4 linked regions of the Homo sapiens genome follow. The protein of the gene in region 2 interacts with the protein of the main gene of each other region in a biochemical or structural test. Each region holds a gene or a part of one and is shown on either strand. Other genes may lie near its edges.

What was found.
Region 1: the proteins of CDC25C (region 2) and KPNB1 form a complex in vitro, tested with the Homo sapiens proteins (one study listed by BioGRID).
Region 3: the proteins of CDC25C (region 2) and MAPK14 form a complex in vitro, tested with the Homo sapiens proteins (one study listed by BioGRID).
Region 4: the proteins of CDC25C (region 2) and PKN1 form a complex in vitro, tested with the Homo sapiens proteins (one study listed by BioGRID).

The regions. Positions count from the first base shown.
Region 1 is NC_000017.11:47,652,895-47,659,921, forward strand, and holds part of KPNB1 (importin subunit beta-1), read left to right. Parts: intron 1-3,965; coding exon 3,966-4,166; intron 4,167-5,613; coding exon 5,614-5,766; intron 5,767-7,027.
Region 2 is NC_000005.10:138,286,790-138,293,816, reverse strand, and holds part of CDC25C (M-phase inducer phosphatase 3), read left to right. Parts: intron 1-1,700; coding exon 1,701-1,847; intron 1,848-3,076; coding exon 3,077-3,178; intron 3,179-4,253; coding exon 4,254-4,316; intron 4,317-6,549; coding exon 6,550-6,648; intron 6,649-7,027. UniProt on the Homo sapiens protein: Functions as a dosage-dependent inducer in mitotic control. Tyrosine protein phosphatase required for progression of the cell cycle. When phosphorylated, highly effective in activating G2 cells into prophase.
Region 3 is NC_000006.12:36,100,787-36,107,813, reverse strand, and holds part of MAPK14 (mitogen-activated protein kinase 14), read right to left. Parts: intron 5,244-7,027; coding exon 5,165-5,243; coding exon of another isoform or gene 5,112-5,164; exon of another isoform or gene 5,050-5,111; intron 360-5,049; coding exon 186-359; intron 1-185. UniProt on the Homo sapiens protein: Serine/threonine kinase which acts as an essential component of the MAP kinase signal transduction pathway.
Region 4 is NC_000019.10:14,457,302-14,464,328, reverse strand, and holds part of PKN1 (serine/threonine-protein kinase N1), read right to left. Parts: intron 6,299-7,027; coding exon 6,189-6,298; intron 6,098-6,188; coding exon 5,954-6,097; intron 663-5,953; coding exon 587-662; intron 502-586; coding exon 360-501; intron 270-359; coding exon 176-269; intron 1-175. UniProt on the Homo sapiens protein: PKC-related serine/threonine-protein kinase involved in various processes such as regulation of the intermediate filaments of the actin cytoskeleton, cell migration, tumor cell invasion and transcription regulation.

The sequences.
Region 1 (7,027 bases), on a different chromosome or scaffold from region 2:
TTTGGTTATATTGCCCAGAGAACAAGAAATCGCTTTCTCAGATCTTTTGCTATTTGCATGGGATAGAGCTAACAGTGTGATAGGTTTCTGGGACCTCAACTTTACCTAAAGATAAAAATTGTCTTTGTCTTAAATCTTTCTCAACACAGCTTGTCCATTCCCATTGATGGATTGGAATTCTTTTTAGATGACTGAGGTAGGCTGCAGCAGTTTGGGAAACTTTAATTACGTGCCATAATTGGTAAAATCTGTTTGGCAAATGGGAGTAGTGTACAAATTGGTGCTACATTTGTATAAAAATTAGGGAATTTGTTAATAGGTATTTCCAAGCTCTCCAGAAATTCCGATTCGGTACTTCTGGAGTACAGCTCAGGGAATTTTTTTTTTTTTTTTTTTTTGGAGACAGTCTTGCTCTGTTGCCCAGGCTGGAGTGCAATGGCATGATCTCGGCTCACTGCAGCCTCCGCCTCCCAAGTAGCTGGGATTACAGGCACCCACCACCATGCCCAGCTAATTTTTGTACTTGAAGTAGAGACGGGGTTTCACCATGTTGGCCAGGCTGGTCTTGAACTCCTGACCTCAGGTGATCTGCCTGCCTTGGCTTCCCAAAGTGCTGGGATTACAGGAGTGAGCCACCTCGCCTGGCTGTTGTTGTTTTTAAATTAAGTTCTTTAGTGATCTGTCTTACATGGGTAAGGCACAAAGAGGAGTGAGTTAAATATCTGTGCAGTCATCATTTTGTCCTTGGTATTTGAGTGGAAACTAGTGGGGAATTCCTACATATGTACTTGTGCAGGACATGGTTATGCACATCATACTTGCTATTTCCTGGTTCTAGATATCAGCATTAGGTAAAGTAGTGCCCTGTAAGGCAGTAACTTCTGTATCTGGTTGTGTACCTCCTTCTGTCACCAATCTTGCATACCCATGATAAGGAGCCGGGTTATTAAATCCAACTTGGTTTCAAATCGTTTTGGAGCATGTAGAGCTGTTTCTATTCATGTTGGTTCTGCTTGTGTAATAACAACATTTTAATTCCTTCTCCCTCAGCTAAGTGACATAAATGGAAGTATATTCTATCACTGGAAATCTCGATACTGATAGTGCCCATTCAGTTTCTCATCTTCCTTAATTTACACACTAGTAAATGGGATAAGATGTAATTGGAATTGTAATTGGCTTATTTTTTGGCACATCACTCTTAACACCAACCCTTTAAAAAAAAATTAGACAATAATGGCTGGGCGCAGTGGCTCATGCCTGTCATCCCAGCACTTTGAGAGGCCGAGGTGGGTGGATCACCTGAGGTCAGGAGTTCGAGACCAGCCTGGCCAACATGGCGAAACCCTGTCTCTACTAAAAATACAAAAATTAGCTGGCTGTGGCGGTGGATACCTGTAGTCTCAGCTACTCTGGAGGCTTAGGCAGGAGAATTGCTTGAACCTGGGAGGCGGAGATTGTGGTGAGCCAAGATTGCGCATTGCACTCCAGCCTGGGTGACAGAGTGACACTCCATTTCTTAAAAAAAAAAAAAAAAAAAAAATTAGATAATTTGTATAGGCATGGTTAAGCCCTCGGGCATGAGAAAAAAGCTAACAGTACCTTGGCCTTTTTCCCTTTCATAGCACAACGATAACTAATACTAAGTTTCACTGTTGGTGATCTTTTTTGAAATCTGGATATTGGGGCACAATTGGGAGCTAGTTTCTCTTTTCTGATAATTGAATATTACTATTAAGGTTACCTCTAGTTTAAACAGAAAACTTTTAGTACTCAGGAGGTGGACATCCGTAGTTTCTAAATCACCTCAAGTAATATGGAGTCTTCAGAAAGCAATCTAAAGGAAAAAGGTAAAGGTAGAATGGGATTCAGTGCACTCCACATATGTACTAGGAGACTATGTAGTGTGGTGTGAAGGCACCCTGGACTTGGGTTAATAATACCCATTCAGCCCCTGATATTTTGGACAATTCACCTTGTTTTTCCCCCTCATTCCCTCGTGTCTTTGACATACCGTTTTTGTCCATTCTAGCTCTGCTAGTCCTCGAGAGCAAAGCCTTTCATTTAACATCAATCAGAACTGTTTGTAGTTGGGTAGAGCTGATGGGGGTGGGGGCCAGGGATGATGATATACCGTATAAGAAGGAAAGGGGGAGTTCATTATTGGTGCTAGCTGCAAAGCAGGATACTAAGTGATCCGACCCAGTCAGCAGAGCTGGCCTGAATATCTGGCAGCTATTCTTTGTCCCGTGTTCATGCCAGAACAGTTAACTGTTTGCCTTTGAGTGGACTACTGATTCTTAGTGAGTTCATTGACTGAATTAGCTGATCACGGTAATAATTAGCTCTAGGTCAATTGTGGCTTCATCTTTTATCATACCTGTGCCTTTACTCTTTACATAAATGGTGGCGTGGTTACCATGTCAAGCGAGACATGTTTAATGACAAGTGGATCTTGTTTTGACATCTGGCTAGATTTTGGTATCTGTCAGTGATAGAACAGTTCTTTGATTCTTGGGCAAACAGAACAAATCCTTTCAGATTGGAAGTTATATAAAGATTAGTTCATAGGTGTTATTAACATCAGCAACGTTGTTTTTGTATTTAGTGATGTTGTTACTTGACCAAGGCCTTTCTATGTAAGTCACCCCGAATGCTGAGTTGTTAGTGATTAGAAGGAAAAAGTTTTGTTTCAGCCCACGTCTCATGAGTAAGATCTCCTTGGATCAGATTAGACAGTGATCTACTGTGAATAAGACCCACCTGAATGCCCCAGAACTAGCTTCATTCTAGTGTCCATGTCTGTCTACAAAACGAGGGTGTGAACATCCTTTCCTTATAACAGCAACAATGAGCCTGGAAGATGAGTTTTGTCCCCATCTCTCTCCTTTGCCATTTACTGCTACCTCCTCTTGTAACTTCTGGTTTCCCACCTCGTGTTGAAGGTTGAAGTGAGGTGGGATGACTGGTTTTGTTTCTAGGTTCTAGGGCAGTGTTGATTATGCTGATGTTGCTACTGAGGCTGGTTTTTTCTGACAGCCTTTCCTACTTCTCCGTATTATAGATAAGAATTCTGAGGCCAGGCACAGTGGCTCACGCCTGTCATCCCAGTACTTTGGTAGGCCGAGGTGGGTGGATCACCTGAGGTCAGGAGTTTGAGACTGTCCTGGCCAACATGGTGAAACCCCATCTCTACTAAAAATACAAAAACTAGCCGGGCATGGTGGCAGGCACCTGTAATCCCAGCTACTTGCTGGGGGGAGCTAAGGCAGGAGAATCGCTTGAACCCAGAAGGCGGAGGTTGCAGTGAGCCGAGATCGCGCCATCATGCTCCAGCCTGGGGGACACGAGCGAGACTTTGTCTCAAAAAAAAAAAGAATTCTGAGACAGCTGCCTGGGCACAGTGGCTCACACCTGTAATCCTAGCACTTTGGGAGGCCAGGAATTTGAGACCAGCCTGGGCAACATAGGGAGACCCCCATCTCTACTAAAAACCCAAAAAAGTTAGCTGGGTGTGATGGCATGTGCCTGTAGTCTAAGCTACTCAGGGAGGCCTGGGAGGTCAAGGCTGCAGTATCGTTGTGCCATTGCACTATCGTTTTGCTACTACACTCCACCCTGGACAACTGACTGAGGCCTTGTATTTTCCTTTTTTTTTTTTTGAGCCTGGGCAATATGGTGATGCCCTGTCTCAACAAAAGATAGCTGGGCATGTCAGCATATCCACCCCTGTAGTTCAGTTACTCAGGAGCCTGAGGCGGGAGGATAGATTGCACCGTAGAGATTGAGGCTACAGTGAGCTGTGATCGTGCCACTGCACTCCAGTCCGGGCAACATAGTGAGACCCTGTCTTAAGAAAGAAAGAAAAAAAAGAATTCAGAGACACTAATATAAGTATGGTGGTGGGCAAAATGTGGTCAAATAGTGTTAGAAATTTGTATCTTTTGTCTTTTTTTTTGGTGCAGGTTTTGCAGACATTGGGTACAGAAACTTACCGGCCTAGTTCTGCCTCACAGTGTGTGGCTGGTATTGCTTGTGCAGAGATCCCAGTAAACCAGTGGCCAGAACTCATTCCTCAGCTGGTGGCCAATGTCACAAACCCCAACAGCACAGAGCACATGAAGGAGTCGACATTGGAAGCCATCGGTTATATTTGCCAAGATATAGTAAGTGCTTGCCTAATGTATCTGGTTTATATACCTCTGATTGCCTCTAGCTGTGACATCAATGATATTAGTACTACCTTATTGAATCACGAAGAAAGCCAAGCTAAATTGCACAGTTTTGAAAGTGAGACTGATTTATTTCCCTTAGGCCTGTGTCTTCACATTGCTAATCATGCCCTAAAGTAAAGAAACTTGAGGATCGCAAACTGAAAACAGAAGTCTATGTTTGAAGAGTCTTAGATTCTAGACTTACAAAATGAGGATATTCTCATTTGGATTATCCCTGACCCAGTCTTTTTTCTTAAGATCCCGAATGTACCATGAATGTTGTGGCGCATTTTCATTTACAACATTACGGAAAGTTTTGCCAACATTTGATGTAGTTGGTTTAGCCACTGGAGACACAGTATTTTAGATGTAGCCCCCCCAGCACTGTTGTTCCTGATGAGGTTACCACTCTTGGTGTGTATTTTAATATATAGACTTTATGAAGCAAAGGAGCCCACAGCACTTGACCCAGACTTAGACTCCCTAGATGTGCCTAGGTGTCGATCCTTGGCCTTGGCCCTTAAATGCCCTGAAGCTTTACTTTAGAGTACAGATGGCCTGGAAAATACGAACAGACTGCCATCTCCATTTGCACAGAAGTGGGGAGGAAAGCGAATATTACCTCATACCCAGAGTCATTATGCTAAGAAGTCAAAGATGAAGTTGATGAGTTTGACTTGGTTTTGTTCAGTTCTGGATTGCCAGTACCATGAGACATTTTGCAGGTGGTTTGCAGTGTTATTCCCAAATGGAAACGGGTGGGGAAAGATCACCAATTCATGATACTTTCTTGAGTGAACTTTACAGTTAAAAGGACTGCCAATTAAGCCAGGCACAGTGGCTTACACCTGTAGTCCCAGCTGCTTGGGAAGCTGAGGTGGGAGGATCACTTGAACCCAGGAATTTGAGGGTTCAGTGCATTGTGGTAGTGCCTGTGAATAGCCACTGCACTTTAGTCTGGGCAATACAGACCCTGTCTCTTAAGAACAGAAGAAGGACTGCTTCTGTCGTGAAGCTCCTTATGGCAGTCTTTTGGAGGGGATTGATTCCAGCACCCTCCTCAGGTACCAAAATCCTCAGATGTTCAAGTCTGTTACATAAAATGGTGTAGTATTTGCATATAACCTATGCACATCCTCCCATATACTTTAAATCATCTCTAGAATACTTACAATACCTAATTCAATGTAAATGCTATATTAATAGTTGGTATACTGTATTAAGGGAATGATGACAAGAAAAAAAGGTGTACATGCACCTTTTGGTGCAGTACAGATGCAACCATCCATTTTTTTTCCTCTAAATATTTTCAATCCATAGTTGTTTGAATCCACAGATGTGGAACCCATGGCTGCAGAGGGCTGACTGTATATTCATTGCACTTCTCTGCTTGTTACAGGACCCAGAGCAGCTACAAGATAAATCCAATGAGATTCTGACTGCCATAATCCAGGGGATGAGGAAAGAAGAGCCTAGTAATAATGTGAAGCTAGCTGCTACGAATGCACTCCTGAACTCATTGGAGTTCACCAAAGCAAACTTTGATAAAGAGGTAAGTTTTTTGACAATAAGGTATAGATTCAGACAGTAAGGGATGAAAGAGTTGAATGAAAGTTTTTTGTTTTGTTTTCTTAAGTTTATGGTTTAGAAAGTACCACCTACTTAAAAGTATTTGTTTCCAGTTTAGTCGAGTTCGTATTGTGTGAGATATCCCCATGGAGTGTTTGCCGTTTCTCATCATGCTTTTGGAAATAAAGTGTTTCTAAGCTTAGGTTTTTCCTTTTGCAGTCCAAAGTGTGGAATGTTGTTGGGTTTTTTTAAATTATAGGGCATGGTGGTGCATACTGGTACTCCAGCTACTTCAGAGGCTAAGGCGGGAGGATTGCTTGAGTCCAGTTATTCAAGGCCAGCCTGGGCAACAAAGTCAGATATCGTCCCTTAAAAAAAAGAAAGGAATAGGCTGGGCGATGTGGCTTAAGCCTGTAATCCCAGCACTTTGGGAGGCTGAGGCGGGTGGATCATCAGGTCAGGAGTTTGAGACCAGCCTGACGAACATGGTGAAACCCCATCTCTACTAAAAATACAAAAAAATTAGCCGGGTGTGGTGGCGTGCGCCTGTAATCCCAGCTACTCAGGAGGCTGAGGCAGGAGAATCACTTGAACCTGGGAGGCAGAGGTTGCAGTGAGCCGAGATTGCAGCACTGTATTCCAGCCTGGGCGACAGAGCAAGACTGTCTCAAAAAAAATAAAAAATAAAAAAAATAAAAGAAAGAAATTATGGTATGTACTATATATGTTGGTTTACTTTGGTTTCTTTTAAGATTGTGTGAATCTTTTGCCTTGTACTAAAGATTTTGTGGAGGCCGGGTGCTGGGGCTCACATCCAGTAATCCCAACACTTTGGGCCACCAAGGCAAGAGGATCACTTGAAGCCAGGAGTTTGAGACTAGCCTGTGCAACGTAACAAAACCCTGTCTCTAAAAAAATTTCTGTGGAGAAGAACAACTGAGTTGTTAACCAGTTTTGTGAGCTCTTGTGTTTACAGGGCTTATAATGGAAAAAAAATAATGAAAAATGAAATAAATAAAAATTATAGCAATTGGTCTGTTTCATACCACCTTAGGAAGGTGTTTTTAAGAAACAGGATATATAGCCAGGTGCTTTGGCACATGCCTGTAATCCCAGCTACTTGGGAAGCTGAGGTGGGAGGATCACTTGAGCCTGGGAGTTCAAGGCTCAAGATTTCACCACTGTACTTCAGCCTGGGCAACAGTGCAAGACTCTGTCTCCAAAAAAAAAAAATATATATATAT
Region 2 (7,027 bases):
AAATTGGCTGGGCATGGTGATGCGCATCTGTAGTCCCAGTTACTCAGGAGGCTGAGTTGGGAGGATCGCTTGAGCCTGAGAGGCAGAGGTTGCAGTGAGCTAAGATTGTGCCACTGCACTCCAACCAGAGTGACAGCGAGACCCTATCTCAAAAAAAAAAAAAAAAAGATAAGTTTCAATTAGCTAATTAATTCCAAACTCTTAGTAATATGGCTCTTAGCATAATTATTATGGTGTGTTCTAGAGAAGCCCCTTTTGAAATCCTCATCTAGCTTTCCCCTGCCTTCTCAGGGGAAAATTGAAGTTATATGAAGTCCTGTCTGTCATGGAGACCAGGCACCCTACTCCTCAGTGCCTCACCATATCTCCTTTCCTACCCTACCTTTGGTTGATCCATTCATGCATCACTGGCTTCGTGGCCTTGACTGTATCTCTTGGCTTCTTCCTTTTGGGCTTTGGCTTCTGCTACTGCCTAATTATTTCTCCATCTTCCAAGTTAGGCAACCAAGAGAGGGAACCTGATTGGCCTAGATTATTTTTGCTTATTCTAGACCACTAAATAGATGTGTTCAACCAGCAATATGGTCCAGTCATCAGTGTCTGGGGGGTAGGGTGGATGGGGACATAGGGCGATGTTTGGAAGGAGTCTAAGGGTACGTATAATGTGGACGGTACCATCAGCTGGTATCACGAACAAGAGGTAGGACCATGTGTGTGATAAACAACATAATATCCATAGCTGTCATAAAGCAAAATGTTGTTATTCTTATTTCGTTCTTCCAGAAACCATTGATCATCAAGCTGCCTTCCAGTTATGGCTCTCTTATTGTATAGCCCCCCTCCTAAATCAGTCCATAACAGGTAGTGCGATAAGTGTTTAGAGAAGGAGCTTTTGCCTGTTCTCTAGGTGAGAGGTAGAGATCTCAAAGTATGTGGCAACAGAGGATAGAATTGTGGATTAGTTGGAAGGTGTTATCAGAGGTCATTTGATAGACCCTCAACTCTGAATATAGCACCCAAACCATGCCTTTCAAATAAACAACAGTCTATCCTCTTATACTTTAATCTGTTCCTGTGTAAGCAATTCTCAAGGCTAGTTCTTCATGACGTTTGAGCCACTTTTTTTTCCCTGATGGGTTTCATAGTATCCATCCTATAATGGTCAGCATGCTATTTGATTTTAGTGTGTCCTTTTTTCTTGCATGATGCTTCTTTTGCTATTTTTCTTCTTGGCTTTTCATCTTTAGGTTTGTTGAGGTCCTTAAATCCTGATTGTCAATGTCCTAGGATCCCAGAGACAAAATGGACTTATGTTTTTTTTTTTTTTTTTTTTTTTGGTCACATAACTGGAGGGACTGAGCTTGTGTTTGCTTTCTGTTAGAAGAACTGGTGCATCTAAGACAGTCAGCTGCAGAATTTGGTTTGGCTAGTTAAGACGTCCATGGAGATGGAATATCATGCAGTCCAGGTAGAAAGATATTAACGGGCCTATGAAGACAGGTTGCCTACCCAAGGCTTCTCAAACTTGAGAAATCACCTGGGCATCTTGTTAAAATGCAGATTTTAATTCAGTAGGTTTGGGGTGTGGCCTAACATCTGGAAACCTGCATTTCAAAGAAGCTCCCAGGAGATGTTGTTGCTGCAGGTCTGCAGACACACTTGGAGGAGTAAGAACTAGGGGGTTTAATATTCCCAAACAGGTGAGCAGAAGTGGCCTATATCGCTCCCCGTCGATGCCAGAGAACTTGAACAGGCCAAGACTGAAGCAGGTGGAAAAATTCAAGGACAACACAATACCAGATAAAGTTAAAAAAAAGTATTTTTCTGGCCAAGGAAAGCTCAGGAAGGTAAGAACTTTTTAAGATGAAAATCTTGTTCATCTTCTATCTCATGTCTTTGCTTTTCTGGTATGAGGATTGTTTTATTATGCCTTTTTTGTCTTCTTCCTCTTTACTTTTACTTTTTCCTCTTTGTTCTTTCCATCTTTCTGTCTTTTCTACATCTGTATCCACGTGAAATATATATATATATATAAAATATTTATATAACATAGATACATAAAGTATATCTATATTGTACTTTTAGAAATGTTGTCATAGGCCGGGTGCAGTGGCTCACGCCTATAATCCTAGCACTTTGGGAGGCCGAGGCGGGCGGATTGCCTGAGCTCAGGAGTTCAAGACCAGACTGGGCAACACGGTGAAACCCCGTCTCTACTAAAATACAAGAAATCAGCTGGGCGTGGCAGCATGTGCCTGTAGTCCCGGCTACTCAGGAGGCTGAGGCAGGAGAATCGCTTGAACCCGGGAGGTGGAGGTTGCAGTGAGCCAAGATTGTGCCACTGCACTCCAGCCTGGGCAACAGAGCAAGACTCCGTCTCAAAAAAAAAAAAAAAAAGAGAAATGTTGTCATCATACCGTCTTCCCAACCCTTTTTCTTAAGATCTGAAAGAATACAAGGGAACTTTGGTATGGATATTTTACTGCTGTTTTACATGCAGTCTGACAGAAACAACATCATATAGCAGGTTGGTTTTGTGGAAAGCAACTTCTGAAAAACTTAGCCTTTGTCCTTTACCCTCCCCAACTTTAAAAAAATTAAATAGATGGGAGGATCACTTAAGGTCAGAAGTTCAAGACCAGCCTGGTCAATATAGCATGACCCCATCTCTAATAAAAAAAAATAAAATAAAAAATTAAAATTCTAAAATCTTTGGATATTTTATAAAATCAACTTATTTATTTATTTATTTATTTTCCCCTGAGATGGGGTCTCACTCTGTCACCCAGGCTGGATTGCAGTGGCATGGTCTTGACTCACTGCAGCCTCAATATTTATTTATTATTAAAAATAATAAATAAACAAATGGAGTCTCACTCTGTCTCCCAGACTGGAGTGCAGTGGTGCAATCGTAGCTCACTATAGCCTTGGCCTCCTGGGCTCAAGTGATCTCCCTACCTCAGCCTCCCATGTAGCTAGGATTACAGATGTGCGCCACCATGGCCCACTCCATCCACTGGTTTTTAAACCTTTAACATGAGGATTGGGTGTGGGGTGGGAATCTTGTCATCTTCAGGGCTTATGTTTAAAGAAGACAGTCTCTCTGTGTGACATTACTATCACTCAGATGCTGGAGGAAGATTCTAACCAGGGGCACCTGATTGGTGATTTTTCCAAGGTGAGTTTGGCTACACCCATCCTGTATTTCAGTGAGTCATTTTGGATCTGAATCTTCTCTGTTTGCCGAGAATGCCTGGTGTAAATATGCATCCTCACCAAGTACTCTTTGGTAACCTGACAGTGCTCTAGTGGTAGATCCAGGCCCTAAGCCTTTCCAGAGAGAAAGTATTTCTTATTCTTCTGGGAAGATCCAGAACAGGGGAAAGTATGAGACTTTTTACCTTTTTTCTGTTTAAAAACATATTTTAAAATTATGTAAATAATACTTGGTTGTTACAGAAAAAGTAGAAAATGAAGAAATTTATCCCAAACTTTATTAACCAGGGTAATATTGCTTAGTATATACTCTTTTTTTCCCCCCTACTGTCTGTGTAATTGCAGAAGGTACATATTCTTACAGATTTTTTTCTGTGTTTTCACAAACACATATACAAATACAGTTTTTGCTTTTCTACAAAAACAGTTTATATTGTTTTGTTATCTGTTGTTTTTCCTCTCATTTAATAATTATATCAGGGGCATCTTTTTTCATATTAATAAGCAGTTATGCTTCATTCTTTCTTTTTTTAAGATTCAAGGTCTTGATCTGTTGCCCAGGCTGGAGTACATTGGCATGATCATAGCTCACTTCAGCCTCGAGCTCCTGGCCTCAAGAAATCCTCTCTCTCCTTGGCTTCCCAAAGCACTGAGGTTACAGGCATGAGCCACCATGCCCAGCCCATTTCATTTTAATAGCTCCATATTATTTCTTTTTTTTTTTTTTTTGGCTGCTCATAATTTCTTCATAAATCCCTTCTTGTAAGATATTTGGTTTTACAATTTTTTCTTATGAATGATACCAAGATGAATATATTTGTAGAGAAATCTAAAACTTCGTACACATCCTTGATTTGTTCTTTAGGATCAGTTCTTAGAAATGGACTTGATGTATATGCACTTTATAGAGACACTGATTTTTTTGAAGGCCTCTGGGGTTTTAAGGGTCACTTGGAAAGAAGGACAAAATAAGGGTCTTTGATCTCAAACTTGGGTGTGGAATACTTGCTGTTATTTCAGCTCTTGTGTATTTCTAGGTATGTGCGCTGCCAACCGTGTCAGGGAAACACCAAGATCTGAAGTATGTCAACCCAGAAACAGTAAGCAGATTTCTGGAGATGGTAACTGGTTACATAAGCTACCATCTGGTCTCTTCTGTCCCTAAAATGCCCATTTCCATTTGTATTTCTTTCACTGTGTTCACTCACACAGGCTCCTTATTCAACTGAAGTTATATTGAAGGACTCATTTTTTTCCCCATTCTTCTCTCTCCTTCGTTTTTAGTTAAACAAATGATACATAGTTTTTGTAAAAGGGAAAAAGGGAGGGGTCAGGCATGGTGGCTCACGCCTGAAATCCTAGCATTTTGGGAGGCTGAGGCAGGCAGATCTCAGGCACTTGAGGCAGGGAATTCGAGACCACCCTGGCCAACATGGCGAAACCCCATCTCTAATAAAAATACAAAAAAATTAACCAGGCGTGGTAATGTGTGCCTATAATCCCAGCTACTTGGGAGGCTGAAGCACAAGAATTGCTTGAACCCCAGTTGGGGAGGTTGCAGTGAGCAGAGATCGTGCCACTGTACTCCAGCCTGGGCGACACAGCGAGACTGTCTCAAAAAATAATAATTACTTAAGAAAAAAGGGAGAAAGAAAGGAAAATAAAAAATCACACACAAGAAATGGTCTCAATTAAGGTCTCAATTAGGGTGACCATGCACCCTCGTTTACATTTTACAATCCCATTTTCATCTATTAGTGAGGGTAATTATTAATAGTGTTTGCTTTCATTCTCAAAAGTCTCCCAGTTTGTACAAAAATTATTTGGTCACCATACCCACAATCTCATCACCAGAGATAACCACTAGTCATATTTTCCTATGGCCTTCCAGATTTTATTTTATTTTTAGACATGGAGTTTCGCTCTTGTTGCCCAGGCTGGAGTGCAATGGCACAATCTCGGCTTGCTGCAACCTCTGCCTCCCGGAGGTCATTCTCCTGCCTCAGCCTCCCAAGTAGCTGGGATTACAGGTGCCAGCCATCACACCGACTAATTTTTGTATTTTTAGTAGAGACGGGGTTTTACTATGTTGGTCAGGCTGGTTTCAAACTCCTGTCCTCTGGTGATCCACCCTCCTCAGCCTCCCAAAGTGCTGGGATTACAGGTGTGAGCCACTGCGCCCAGCCCCAGATTTTATTCTAGCATATGTTTTATAGAAATGGGATCATGGGCCTAGCACAGCTCACACCTGTAATCCCAGCACTTTGAGAGGCCAAGGCAGGCGAATCACCTGAGGTTGGGAGTTCGAGACGAGTCTGACCAACATGGAGAAACCCCGTCTCTACTAAAAATATAAAATTAGCTGGGTGTGGTAGCGCATGCCTGTAATCCCAGCTACTCGGGAGGCTGAGGCAGGAGAATTGCTTGAACCCGGGAGGCAGAGGTTGCGGTGAGCCAAGATGGCACCATTGTACTCCAGCCTGGGCAACAAGGGCGAAATTCCATCTCAAAAAACAAAAAAAAAGGATCATGATGAACGTATAGTATTGCAATTTGCTTAGTGAGACATTATAGACATCTTTCTATATCAATAAGGTATCTATATTATCATTTTAATGGCTATATAATGCCGCTCTATTCTACTGACATGTACAATTTATTTTACCAAACCCCTATTATTGAATATTGAAGTTATTTCTAATATATTGATAATATAAAACAATGCTGAGATGAATATAATTGTGCCTACATCTTTGTGTACTTTTCCTGTTTACTTAAGATGTTAGAAATTGCTGAGTCAAAGTGTGATTACATTTATTTGTATATGTATTTACAAAGTTCCCTTCAGAAAGGCTGAACCAATTTGCACTCCTACAAGTAGCTTCAGTTTCTTCCTTCCTTTAGGTATCAACCTTTCCCTTCCATATCCTTTCCTGAAAGACTTACTTTCTTCCTTTTTGATGGTGGGTAGGGAACCATTTTGCATTTCTTCCTGCAATTTCAAGCTCTCTAGCTGCTGCCTCTGCCACTGCAGAAGTCCTTGGGCATCTCCTGAGTCCAGCCATGCCTATCCCCAGATGGGTAGCCTGAATATGGTTTTCCTTGGTATCTTGTCAGTGCCAGCTATTTTGGTTCTCTAAAAGGGCCACTTCCTGTTTCATTCTCTTTTGTGGAGTGGGGCTGAATCATTGCCACATATCAAATATGGGGTGACTTTGGAGGCTGGACATACAGTGGACAGAACAGGAGTATGCTTGTAAGGAACTGTGTCATTGACCCTTCTCTCCCTCAGAGTGGCAGTGAGCAGAATATTCAGTCATTGTTTCTGTCCAGGTGGCTGCCTTACTGTCGGGGAAGTTCCAGGGTCTGATTGAGAAGTTTTATGTCATTGATTGTCGCTATCCATATGAGTATCTGGGAGGACACATCCAGGTGAGACGACATTGTGGCCATTAGTAGGGGAGGGCTGGAGATAACTCTTTATTGAGAAGAGTCTGTGGACAAAGGGGTCTATGAACTCTAGAGTCAGGACAAAGATTACATATTTGAAGCACCTCAAGGCTGAGGTCCTCATTGTTTTAATTCTGTATACCTTAAGCAGGTTACTTTCCCTTTCCCTCCTAGATCTATCTCCCTCTTTTCTGTAGGAGCCAAGGGGTCCTACCTAGAAATAAAAACATTAATCCAAGGACTGAAGCACTTTGCAAACACTTACTATTCATGAACATTCCTCGCAGTGATCTCTATACTTCCAGTGGTTCAGGTCTATAAACATTTATTGACCATCTACAAGCTCTATGCCAGGCGTTCA
Region 3 (7,027 bases), on a different chromosome or scaffold from region 2:
CATAAGTATCTCAAAGGTCCAGAGAGTATCACTGTCTACAACAGTTTCCACCAGAGAACATATTCATTCTGCATTAGAGACCTCATCTACAAGCTTTAGCAAGTTGGTTATGACCATTCAGTTTTTATTTTTCCCACCGCTTTTGGTTAGTGGTTCAAGATGTTAATCCTACCCTTAGGACTTACTTTTCCACTCATCTATAAGGAGGTCCCTGCTTTCAAAGGACTGATCATAAGGATCGGCCACTGGTTCATCATCAGGATCGTGGTACTGAGCAAAGTAGGCATGTGCAAGGGCTTGGGCCGCTGTAATTCTCTTATCTGAGTCCAATACAAGCATCTTCTCCAGCAAGTCGACAGCTATCAGTACCATAGACAGGAAGGAAAAGAGTTTTTAACATGTTACAAAAAAGTATGCCTTATTGAGCAAACATAGTTTTGACCCTTCATATCCAAACAAAGAACTCTCCTCCAAAATACCTACTCTAGGATATATTAGCCCTCTTCTCCTTTATGTGTGTATGTGTGTGTGTGTGTGTGTGTGTATCTGTATTTTCTATGTTTTAAAATTTTTTTATTTTATTTTTGATTTGGGGGTACATGTGCACATTTGTTACATGGGTCTCACCACGGACTGATGGGGACTGGGCTTCTAGCGTGCCCATTAACCAAATAGTGAACATTGTACCCGATAGGTTATCTCTCAACCCTCACCCTCCTCCTGTATTTTGTATTTTTAAAGAATATGTTACTAAAGAAGAATTTTTTTAAATGACTGGGATTCTGTTTGAACAGGCTTTTGTGGACCGTCAATGTCAAACTGCTACCAGTGTAGTCAAACTGTATAAAACAAAGCCTACAGCTGAAGTAACCTACAATAGGTAGGCAGGGCTGTTTTTTTTTTGTCCCCCTAAGCTGTTTATTTACTAACATCAAATATTCATCAACAGATCTTCAAACAGTGAATAAACTGGGGGTTTTACATGGTGATGAGGGTGAGACATGGTATTAAAATCAAAGGGAATTTTATTTTTAAAAATTTCACTATGAAAAATTTCAAATATACAGAAACAGAAAAGTAAAAACTATGATAAAGTGAACACTCATATGCCTAGCATATTCAACAATTAACATTTTTATATTTCTGTATTTATATGTATTTTTTTCTGAACTGTTTTAAAATAAAATTATAGACATGACACTTTACCCTCCCCAAATATTTCAACACGAAGACATCTTCCTATATAATCATAATACTGTTATTATCTCTGACAAATAATTTCTAAATATCATCTAAAATCCAGTTCATGTTAAGATTTCTCCAATTATTCCAACGTTGTCTTTTAGAACTAGTTTGTTGAAACCAGGATTCAATTAGGGGCCATGCACTGCAACTGACTGGTTTTCTTTAGTCTCTCTTAGTCTAGAATAATCTTCTTACTTCTAAGCCCTGTTCTTTCCTGATTTTGATCTAAAGAGACCCTCTGATTGTCCTGAGAATGACCGTTTCTCGGGATGTGTCTGATTTTGCTTCTTTTGCTGTCATGTGTCTATACCCTGCTTTCCACTATCCCCTGTACTTCCCAAAAACCGGAAGTTAGGTCAAAAATTTTGGTAAGAATCAGGTTAAACATTTTCAGCAAAAATACAGGTGATGCTGTGCACGTGACAGTGCATTAAGGCCATCTGTCCCACTACTAATGAGCTAAAATTGATCACTGGGTTAAGATGTTTCCCCTTTGACCAAAGCAAGTAATCTGCGGGATATTTTGGTACCAAGTAAATATCCATTCTTTTCACTTATGGCTTTCTGCATTCACTGGGTTTCCTTCCCAAAAGCAATTATTTCATAAGGGGTTACAAAATGGTAATTTGTCTAACTCTATATTTCAAATGAGTATTTTTGTGTTTCAGCATGGTGGCACTTGGGAGAATAAATACTGCCATATAACCAGTTATCACTGTGGTGAAAAAGGCTTTTGAGACTTTGCAAATTACTCCTTAAATGTGGAGGGTGTGGGGGTGAGTAGTGAAGAGGACAGCTTCCTATAGAGATCTACTGCTGTGTATATTGGAGGCTGTAAAACACCCGTCCTACAGCTTGAATTCCAGAGTAATCCACTGGAGAAATATGGGCTTCAAGGGGATACAGAAACAAAGTAAATATTCATGTGTCAATTCAAGTTCATAAGTTTACACTTTACAGTACTAGGTGAATGCCTGGATTATATATATATATATTCTTCTGATGGTCTTCTCTTCTTAGAAAAAGAAACCTTATCAGCTGTTGATTTTATAATTGAACACAGATTATACGACAAGTCTCTGTTACCCTTAGGGTAAAAAGGACCATGTTCTTATAACCAATAAGGTCAGGGGCAAGAACAAATTCCTCAAAGATCTTATTAGCTGGGCATGGCATTATGTGCCTGTTGTCTCAGCTACTTGGGATAGGGAAGAGGAAGGATCACTTAAACACAAGAGTTCGAGGTTATCATGAACCGTGACTGTGCCACTGTACTCTAACCTGGGTGACAGAGTGAGATGCCATCTCTTAAAAAAAAAAAATCTTGACAGATAAATACATACACTAACATCAAGGGGTAATTTAAGTTTTAATTCATGTTTTGGGAATAGCAGTGAAACAAAGTCAGTGGCTGACAAAACAGAGCTGTTAATATTTATATTTCTGGCATGTTCCTGCTCAGTTAATATGCTGGGCACGAGCTTGTGATAGTAACACTGTGCTCCATCTGCCCAGCAAGGGGAGCCTCATTATATGACATCACTGTTTGGCAATGGGCTGTAAGGCACGTTTAAATGCTGAGAAGTACAGTGCTGAGCACCAGATGGACCAAAGCCTCCTTTCAACTCATTAGCAAAGTGGTATCTAGTTCTTTTGGAGGTTTCAATGTCATGATTTCAAAGAATGGGAAGACCTATCAGGAGGTATGTGACCTAAATAAGCTGCTGGAACACAAATATCTCCCCTCTCCCCCTAAAAAATGAATTAACACATCTTTCTGAGTCTGTTAAGAGGGTGTCAGTGAGTACTGCCCTGTTCAAAACTTAAGGCTTATAAAATGAAACAACTTCAGAACAGAATGACGACAAGAAAGAACACGACGGGCTGGGTGCAGTGGCTCATGCCTGTAATCCCAGCACTTTGGGAGGCCGAGGCGGGCAGGTCACGAGGTCAGGAGATCGAGACCATCCTGGCTAACACGGTGAAACCCCGTCTTTACTAAAGATACAAAAAATTAGCCAGGTGTGGTGGCACACACTTGTATTCCCAGCTACTCAGGAGGCTGAGGCAGAAGAATCACTTAAAGCCGGGAGGTGGAGCTTGCAATGAGCCGAGATCGCACCACTGCACTCCAACCTGGACGACAGAGCGAGACTCTGTCTCAAAAAAAAAAGGAAAGAAAGAACACAACATCTTTTCCCAACATCCTGTAGTACTTAAGGCTCAAAGAGAGCTTCTCACAGACCCTTGAACTAGATAATACAGCTCAAATAAATCACACAAAGCCAATGAGAGCATGCCAGGGCAGATGCAAACCTAAGCCAGTCTCAGTAGAATCGTACCCACCCCTGATGAGACTGTGGATTCATCCTAGGGCAGGAGAGCGACCCAGCTGAGATATGACATACTCTCTGTCTCCAAGGCTGACACGAACTCATCCACAACTGCCCAAAACTTCAAAGAGCGTGAGTATCTCTGCTATTATAAGAATTATCACAGCGACACTAAAATTCCTCTCCATAATCACTATGGATGAAGTACTTAAAAAGGTAAAATCACCTAGCCTTCACCCCAGCTTCTAAAGAGGTCAGCATGGCTGTCAGCCCTCAAAAAGATAAAACTAAACCTGAAGCATAGCTGCCAAGACCCTTAAGAAGACAGATGACCCAAACAGATGCAAAGAAATGCAGTGAGATTTTAAAACACACCACACAATACAATCTTAAGAAAAGTGAGAAGGCAGATTATACTCGTTACCATAGCATAGCTCCCTTCCCTATTGTAGGGAGGTCCTGGTCTGATCCTTCTGTGTCCACCATTAAACAGCACTGTCCACTGTCCTCTTCAAGAGTCAGGGAATGAGCCTCAGGCAAAGCAGCTTTCAGGGGCCATCTGAAGCACACATCACTCCTCCCCTTCAAAGAATATAGTCCGCCAGGCACAGTGTCTCACGTCTGAATCCCAGCACTTTTGGAAGTTGAAGTGGGCAGACTGCATGAGTCCAGGAGTCCACGATTAGTAAGATGGTGAGACCCTGTCTCTACAAAGAATTCTTTAAAAAATTAGCCAGGCTTGGGGATGCATGCCTGTAGTCCTAGCTATTTGGAAGGCTGAGGCAGGAGGATCACTGGAGCCCAGGAGTTCAAGCTTGCAGTGAGCTATGATTGTGCCACTGTACTCTAGCCTGGGTAAAAGAGCGAGACCCTGACACTACCAAAATAAATAAATAAATAAATAAATAAATAATAATAATAAAGCAACTCCTTTTTTAGCCAAGGCAACACATATCTTCAGCTGCCACCATCACTTCCCTCTGCCAAGGATCTTGAAGGCATAGGAAGCCATTCCTTTAAGTTTAGGTAGCAAATAAGCTCCACAAACAGGAGAGGACGGTTATGCCTCTGAGGGCAGAGAAAGAAGAGGAGAGGGGAAAAGTTCATGAGTGTGGAAGACGACAGGATCTGTAGCAACGGCAGCTACCGTTAGAGCAGAGCACCCTGCAGGGAGCTCCTGGGTGGCTCCTCTAAACACCCACCTGCACTTCAGTGGTTTCTGTCCTCCACTCAGAGACACCATAAATCCACAGCAGTTGTGAGCAAGTTACAGCTTTCTTCTGTATCTGCTTCTTCCTGCCTCACCAATCTTTTCTCTCAACATTCCCATTACTTTCTCTCCTTTCTCCACTGTACCTGCCCATTCCCCCAATCCCAAGTTCTGTGATCATTTAAACATACAATCATCTCATGTGATTAAAAAAAAATCTGACAACACAAATAGATAATAAAAGCCGTATTTATCACCTTCCAAGATTCAACTAATGGTACTTTATTTGGTCAAAAGGAGAAACTCTTCTTCAAATCCCCAATTTATATCATAACCAATTCAATATCCATGAGGTGAGGATATATGGTCAACTTACCCAGGGGATTGGCACCAATAAATACATTCGCAAAGTTCATCTTCGGCATCTGAGTCAAAGACTGAATATAGTTTCTTGCCTGAAAAAACAAGGGTTTTCAGAATGACTTTGTTCAATAATGTTACTGCTCTCAAAGAAAGAATCTTGGTCCTGCTAAGGAACGAGTGTTAACTGACAAAGTCCACTAACTTCAGTGTTTCTAACTGTCTTTGATAGAACTTCTCCCTTACTGCCATCCTAACTTCCCTAGTTATGATCATCACCTTCTTTATTCCTGCTATCTCTCACAGTTGCATTTCAAGTGAACGAGAATGCTCATCAATCAAATTCTCTTTCATTAGCTTTCTGATCACAGGATGAGAAGTTTAAAAACTGAGGCCAAGATATGTAAGAAGTAGCCCTGAGACAGCCTTCTCAAACAGCTAAATTGGTAGAGGGGTTGGTATTCCCAAAGCAAGTCTTGGACCAGCAGTCTTTTGACAGTGCTGACTTCAGTAGGTGCTCTTAGTACATCAAAGGATATCAATATTAAACCTTGCTAACAAAGTAACGGTGGTAACAAAAAAGTTAATATAAACTTAATATAACAGTCCTACCTCACAGGGTTGGAGTGAAGATTAGAGATAACAAACCTAGTACTTTCTTAACACAGTACTTGGTTCCAAGTGACAGTTCAAGAAACATTATCTGCTATCCCACTATCACCTTCAGAAGCAAAGTCTGCTGTCTATCTTAACCACCTCTTTAAAACTCCTGTTTTAATACAGTCCAACAGTAAAAGTATGTATGTATATTTATGTTTACACATACACACACAAGTTTATAAAAAGTTCTGGTTGCCCAGGCACGGTGACTCACGCCTGTAATCCCAGCACTTTGGGAGGCCAAGGTGGGCAGATCGCTTGAGCCCAGGACTTTGAGACCAGCCTGGGTAACATGGTGAAAACTTGTCTCCAAAAATACAAAAAATTAGCCAGGTGTGGTGACGCATGCCTGTGGTCCCAGCTACTTGGGAGACTGAGGTAACAGGATCGCTTGAGCAGGGAGATGGAGCCCAGGAAGCTTGAGCCCAGGAGGTGGAGGTTCCAGTGAGCTAAGATCGTGCCACTGCACTCCAGCTGGGGTGACAGAGTTAAGATCCTGTCTTAAAAAAAAAAAAATCTGGTTGCTTGGGCAAGTTCACCTTCTTTATTTATTAAAAAAATTTTTTTAGAGACACAGTCTCTGCTCTGTTGCCTAGGCTGGAGGTCACTGGCACAATCACAGCTCACTATGGCCTCTAACTCCTGACTCAAGCAACCCTCCTGCCTCAGCTTCCCAAGTAGCTGGGACTACAGGCATGTGCTATCATGCCCTAATTTTTAAATTTTTTTGTAGAGCTGCAGTATTGCTGTGTTGCCCAGGATGGTCTCAAACTCCTGGGCTCAACTGATCCTCCCATCTCAGCCTTCCAAAGTGCTGAGGTTGCAGGTGCACGCCACCACACCCAGCCTTCCGCTTCTTAATTATTGCATGTGGAGTCAGGAGGAAAGGTCTGCTTTGAAAAGCAATTGAGAATCTTTCTGATTTGAAAAGAAAGTTTTAGGAATTGAATACATAAATGGCTGTAATCCCTTTCTACTTGAACATGTAAATAAAAAGAGGAAGGGAAAACAGGTAAGAGAGAACTATCTCATTCAGAGAACAGTCATCCCTTTAATAAAGATAAATCAAAAGACGACCTGAATATAGCTGAAGTAGAAACAAAGCTGCTGGGAAGGGCCCTCTGTGATGCCAACCTGGTTCCCCAAAATATTAAGGGTATCTTACAAAGAAAGAAGTGCCCCAATCATCTCTGATAATAAAACAAGAGTTAGACTAAGT
Region 4 (7,027 bases), on a different chromosome or scaffold from region 2:
TTAACCAGGATGGGGATCTGGGCACACGTTTTAACCAGCATAGAGATCTGGGCCCTGGTTCTGCCACAGACATGCTGCGTGGCTCCAGGGAAGTTCCTAGTGGTCTCTGAGCCTGGAGCAGGACCCCTGACGCTGCCCAGGCCAGGCCTACGGGGATAGAAGGGGGGACCCTCACCAGGCTCGATGGGCTGGAAGGAGGATCCCGCGAGCTCTTCTGAGGTGAGCTGTCCGAGTCAGTGCCGAGGTTCAGCTTCTCCACCGATATGTCACTGCAGCAGACGAGAGGAGGGTGTGTCTGGGACCCAGGACCCTCGCAGGCTTCAAGGGGCAGCCGGGACCATGGGGCCCTCCTTCCTTACCCCGTGGTCCGGGCCTCGGATCCTGGAGAAGCCCCAGGGCTAAAGGTGCCTGTGCCCGTGGCATTGGGGATGAGCCTCCGGAGCAGCCGCACCCACGTGGCGACATCGATGTTCATCTGCCTAGCACGCTGGAACGCCTTCCCTGGGGGGACGGGGCAGGCGTCACCCTCCATGACACTCCCAGGACCCCTGGCCTCTCCCCCAGGAAGCCTGGAGCACCCTCTCACCTTGCTGCTTGGAGAAAATTTTCTTCTGCCGTCGGAGCCGAGGAATCCTCTCAATGACAGGGTTGCGGAAGGTGACCTGGGGGAAGGGACCAAAATGTGAGGACCCTCTGCCCACCTGCAGGCAGACAGCTTGGTAAGGAAGCCCCTGGGAGCACAGGTGTGCGCGCCCAAGTGGGGTTCTGGTCACGTGGCATCAGATTCAACCCGAGTACCAGGTGACAATGAAGAGGTCATCGGTGCAACCCATGGCTCCCCTCCTGAAGGGACGTCTTGGAAAAGCAAGAAGCAAACAACCGGGTCCCTTTCTAGAGGTGGGGAGAGCATCTGACCCAACAAGACTGACAGACAGCGACTGCAAACGGACGCCACGCCATCCCACACCCCATTCCCCACATGTGCTCCCAGACCCCAGACCTGCAGTAGCAGCAACACCTGGGAACTTTCTAGAAACGCAGGTTTGACCTACTGAGCCAGAAACATGGAGTGGAGGAAGCGCGCGCATGCTCTCTCTCTCTCTCTATATATATATATATATACACACACACATATATATATATACACACATATATATATGCACATATGAGTAGTCCGATCTCGGCTCACTGCAGCCTCCACCTCCCGGGCTCAAGAGATCCTCCCACCTCAGCCTCCTGAGTAGCTGGGACTACAGGCACGCACCCCCATGCCTGGCAAATTGTTGTATTTTTGTAGAGACGGAGTTTCACCATGTTGGCCAGGCTGGTCCTGAACTCCTGGGCTCAAGCGATCTGCCCACTTTGGCCTCCCAAAGTGCTGGGATTACAGGCGCGAGCCACCGTGCCCGGCCCTAAAGCACTCAGTATTTCAACAAGCCCCCAGGCAATGCTGGTGCCCACCCATCTATGGAAGCCACCTGTCAAGTTGAATTCTCCCAACTCCAATACAACTTCTAGAAGGTGCTGAAGTCACAGAACTGCAGTGTCTGGTATGGTTGTCACATGTGGCGATTTAAATTAGTGAAAATGTCAGCGAAATTAAAACTTTGGTTCCCTGGTCACACTGGTCACACTTCAGATAGAGAACATTTCCATCTACAACAGAACTCAGCTACTGTGGGTGCATCGACAACAGAGCTGCAGAAAGTTCCTTTTTTCTTTGAGACTCTGTTGCCCAGGCTGGAGTGCAGTGGCGCAATCTGGGCTCACCACAACCTCCACCTCCCAGGCTCTAGAGATTCTCCTGCCTCAGTCTCCCGAGCAGCTGGGATTACAGGCACCCACCACCAAGCCCGGCTAATTTCTTTTTTTTTTTTTTTGAGACACAGTCTCACTCTGTTGCCCAGGCTGGAGTACAGTGGTGCGATCTTGGCTCACTACAACCTCCGCCTCCCAGGTTCAAGTGATTCTCCTGCCTCAGCCTCCCAAGTAACTGGGATTACAGGCGTGCGCCACCACACCTGGCTGATTTTTGTATTTTTAGTAGAGACTAGGTTTTTCCACGTTGGCCAGGCTGGTCTTGAACTCCTGACCTCAGGTGATCTGCCTGCCTACCCTCCCAAAGTGCTGGGATGACAGGCGTGAGCCACCGCACCCAGCCGAATTTTTGTATTTTTAGTAAAGACAGGGTTTCACCATGTTGGCCAGGCTGGTCTCAAACTCCTGACCTCAAATGATCCATCCGCCTCAGCCTCCCGAAGTATTGGGATTACAGGCGTGAGCCACAGCGCCCGGCCAGAGCTGCAGAAAAGTTCTATGGAAGAATGCTTCTGTATAGGCATAAAAACAAAATAGAATGCCACAGAGAGACCTTGAAGGCAAGGAGAAACGCTTTAGAATGTGTCCCCCAGGCCACCCACCATCACTTTCCATTTGGTTTGGGCTGTGTTCTGAATGGGAGAACAATTTTAAACCTCTGCCATCTGGAGTCAGCTCTTCTCCACGCCCCTTTCTTTCTTTCTTTTTTTTTTTTTTGAGACAGAGTTTCGCTGTTGTTGCCCAGGCTGGAGTGCAATGATGCGATCTCGGCTCACTGCAACCTTCATCTCCCAGGTTCAACTGATTCTCCTGCCTCAGCCTCCCGCGTAGCTGGGATTACAGGCGCCTGCTACCACACCCGGCTAATTTTTCTATTTTCAGTAGAGACGGGGTTTCACCATGTTGACCAGGCTAGTCTCGAACTCCTGACTTAGTGATCTGCCCGCCTCAGCCTCCCAAAGTGCTGGGATTACAGGTGTGAGCCACTGTGCCTGGCCCCGCCCCTTTCTTTCACTGGTGCTTGATGGTCAGACCAGGGGAGAACCTCTGCTTAGGGATATGGATATAGAGAGATGGATAAATAGACACAGAAAGAGACAGATATAGACGCAGGTAGATAGAGAGGGGCATGGACGGAAGGGTAGTTACAGATAGAGAAAGAGAGAGGGACTGATAGAGAAAGGGATTCATAGAAAGAGAAGGATGCATGGATAGATGGATGGATAGATAGATACAGCTATCGAGAGAAAAAGAGAGAGAGACACAGATAGATACAGAGAGGGATAGATAGAGACAGAGACAGGAATGGGTGGATATAAATAGAGATAGAGGAATATACAGAGATGGATGGATGGAGGGATGAGCATAGATAAGATAAATGGATGGATGGATAAGATGATAGATAGATAATATAGATGGATAGATAATATAGACAGATGGGTAGACGGAAAGATAGATTAGTTGATAGATAATATAGATGGATGGATAGATAGATATAGCTATATAGAGAAAAACAGAGGCACAGATAGATATAGAGAGGGATAGATAGAGATAGAGAGAGGAATGGGTAGATATATATACAGAGAAATATACAGGGATGGATAGATGGATGGATGATGCATACATAAGATTGATGGATAAGATGACTGACAGATAATAGAGACGGATGCATGGAAAAATAGATTGGTTGATAGATAATATATAGATAGAGATAGATAAATGGATAGATGGATTAGATAAATAGATGATATAGATACCTAATATAGATGGATACATAGATAAGACAGATAATATAGGTGTATCTATCAATGGATAGAGGATGCATTGATAAGATGGCTGGGCCGGGCGCGGTGGCTCACGCCGGTAATCCCAGCACTTTGGGAGGCCAAGGCGGGCAGATCACGAGGTCAGGAGATGGAGACCATCCTGGCTAACACGGTGGGTGAAACCCCGTCTCTACTAAAAATACAAAAAATTATCCGGGCGTGGTAGCGGGTGCCTGTAGTCCCAGCTACTCGGGAGGCTGAGGCAGGAGAATGGCATGAACCCGGGAAGCAGAGGTTGCAGTGAGCCAAGATCGCACCACTGCACTCCAGCCTGGGAGACAGCGAGACTCCATCTCAAAAAAAAAAAAAAAAAAAAAAGATGGATGGATGAATGCATAGACAGACAAAATGGATGGATGGACACGTAGGTGGGTAAATAATAGATAATATGTGTGTGTATACATATATAGGTAATCTATCATATATATATGTAAAATGGGGTACACATATAGGTTAGCGGAAGATTAAAAGAGTTTTTTAGGATAATTTGGCTAAATGAGGGGTCAAGTGCCCCTTCTCTGTGCCCCAGTTTCCTCCTCTGTCAAATTTGAGTAATAACAGTCCCTCTTTTGTTGGTTGGTTGTGAGAATTAATGAGTTCACGTCGCCAAAGTACTCGCTACAGAGCCTGGCTTATACTATGAGAACTCAGCTAGAAATGTCATTTAGACCAGGGGTTCCCGGCCAGGGAGCACTTGACAGTGTCTGGAGACCTCTGGGCTGTCAAAACTCAGGGGGAGGTGGTGCTACTGACATCCTGTAAGCAGTGGGGAGAGGTGCTACATCCTCTAGTATGCAGGACAGCCCCACCACAGAGGATGATGTGGCCCCAGATGTCAACAGTGCCAAGGGTAGGCCACCTCAATTCAGACCTTCACCCTCACACAGCTGTGGAAGGAATCACTTTCTCTTGACTGTGGCTCTGGTAGCAATCACCACGATATGTTGCCAGGTTTTGTATCTCTTTCCTGGTTGGAAGAAATTTTATAATTTATTTCCTTTTTTCTTTAAACATTTCTAAATTTGGAAATCAGCTTCTTCTTCTTCTTTTTTTTTTTTTTTAAGTATCTTGCCTCAGAACAAAACCAATCCCAGCTAAGGTCCTATCACTGATGTGGCTAATTAGAAGTGCTTTTCTTCTTCTTCTTCTTCTTTTTTTTTTTTTTTTGAGACAAGAGTCTCACTCTGTTGCCCAGGCTGGAGTGCAATGGCGTGATCTCAGCTCACTGCAACCTCTGTCTCCTGGGTTCAAGCAATTCTCCTGCCTCAGCCTCCCAAGTAGCTGGGATTACAGGTACCCACTATCATGCCCAGCTAATTTTTGTATTTTTAATAGAGATGGGGTTTCACCATGTTGGCCAGGCTAGTCTGGAACTCCTGGCCTCAAGTGATCCACCTGCCTCAGCCTCCCAAAGTGCTGGGATTACAGGCGTGAGCCACCACACCTGGCCAAGGTGTACTTTTCTATCAAGGTTCAGAGACAGATCTAAAATGTATCTTCCCCTTCTAGAATACACGGGTCTAAAACATACCTGCCACTTCTGAAAGAGCCTGATCTAAAACTATCTTTCTGTATTAAGAGAAACCATATCTAAAACATATCTTATGCTTCTAAAAGAGCCTGATCTAAAATGTATCTTCCCCTTCTAGAACAAGCAGATCTTTTTTTTTTTTGTGAGACTCCTGGGCGACAGAGTCTCACTCTGTCGCCCAGGCTGGAGTGCAGTGGTGGGATCTCAGCTCACTGCAGCCTCCGCCTCCTGGGTTCAAGCGATTCTCCTGTCTCAGCCTCCCAAGTAGCTGGGACTAAAGGCATGTGCCACGACGCCCAGCTAATTTTGTACTTTTAGTTGAGACGCGGTTTTACCATGTTGCCCAGGCTGGTCTCCCTGACCTCAGGTGATCCTCCTGCCTCAGCCTTCCGAAGTGCTGGGATTACAGGCATGAGCCACCACGCCCAGCCTAGAACAGGCAGATCAAAAGCCTATCTTCCCTTTCTAGAAGAGCCTGATCTAAAACATATCTTTCCCTTCTAGAAAAAAGCAGACCTAAAACGTCTCTTCCCCTTCTGGAAGAGCCTGACCTAAAACGTATCTTCTCCTTCTAGAAAAGGCAGAGTTAAAACATATCTTCCGTTTCTAGAAGAGCTGGATCTAAAATCTATTTTCCTCTTCTAGAAAAGCCTGACTTAAAACTTATCTTCCCCTTCTGGAAGAGCCAGACCTAAAACATATTTTCCCCTTCTAGGAAACTGGGAATGGGGCAGTGAGGGAGAAGAAGCATTTTCTCAGGGTCAGGTGTGGGCTATACCTCAGCCACCAGGCAGCCCTGGGGTTCCATGTCCAGCTGCACCTCATGCCTCTCATTGTCCAAGAAATCCTCCAACTTCAGGAATTTGAGGGCACACAGGCCCCGCTGGTCCCGCCAGAACACAGCCAACTCCAGTTCCCGTGCCTGGAGGGAGAGGAAGAGGGCCATCACTCAGGGTGCCAGAGGCATGGAACCCCTCCTCCTCTAGGCCCTGCTGTCCTCCAACGCAGCTCACCCTTTCCAGCTCCAGAGTGAAGCTCTGGTCCCAGGCATTGGGGCCACATGGCTTCCAAGACGTCTGCCCCACCACTGTGTTATCCAGCTTAAGCACAGTGCTGACTTCACCTGAAATGGGAGAGAGGGCCCAGTCAGAAAATGCTGGCAGTAGCCAGACAAGGTTGCTCATGCCTGTAATCCCGGCACTTTAGGAGGTTGAGGCAGGCGATCACTTGAGGCCAGGAGTTCAAGACCAGCCTGGCCATCATAGCGAAACCCCGTCTCTACTAAAAATACAAAAAATTAGCTGGGCGTGGTGGCACGCGCCTGTAATGCCAGCTACTCGGGAGGCTGAGGAAGGAGAATCACTTGAACCCAGGAGGCAGAGGTTGTAGTGAGCCAAGATCGTGCTACTGCGCTCCAGCCTGCGTGACACAGCAAGACTCGGTCGAAAAGAGAGAAGAGAAGAGAAGAGAAAATAAAAACGGCCAGGCACAGTGGCTCATGCCTGTAATCTCAACACTTTCGGAGGCTGAGGCAGGTGGATCACCTGAGGTCAGAAGTTTGAGACCAGCCTGACCAACATGGTGAAACCCCATGTCTACTAAAAATAAAAAATTACCCAGGCGTGGTTGCACATGCCTGTAATCCCAGTTACTCGGGAGGCTGAGGCAGGAGAATCCCTTGAACCCAGGAGGCAGAGGTTGCAGTGAGCCGAGATCACGCCACTGCACTCCAGCCTGGGCAACAAGAGTGAAGCTCCATCTCAAAAAAAAAAAAAAAGAAAAAAAAAAAAGAAAAAGAAAGAAAATCCTGGCAGAAAGGGGCATGTCTATTATCTTTTTCTTTTTTTTTTTT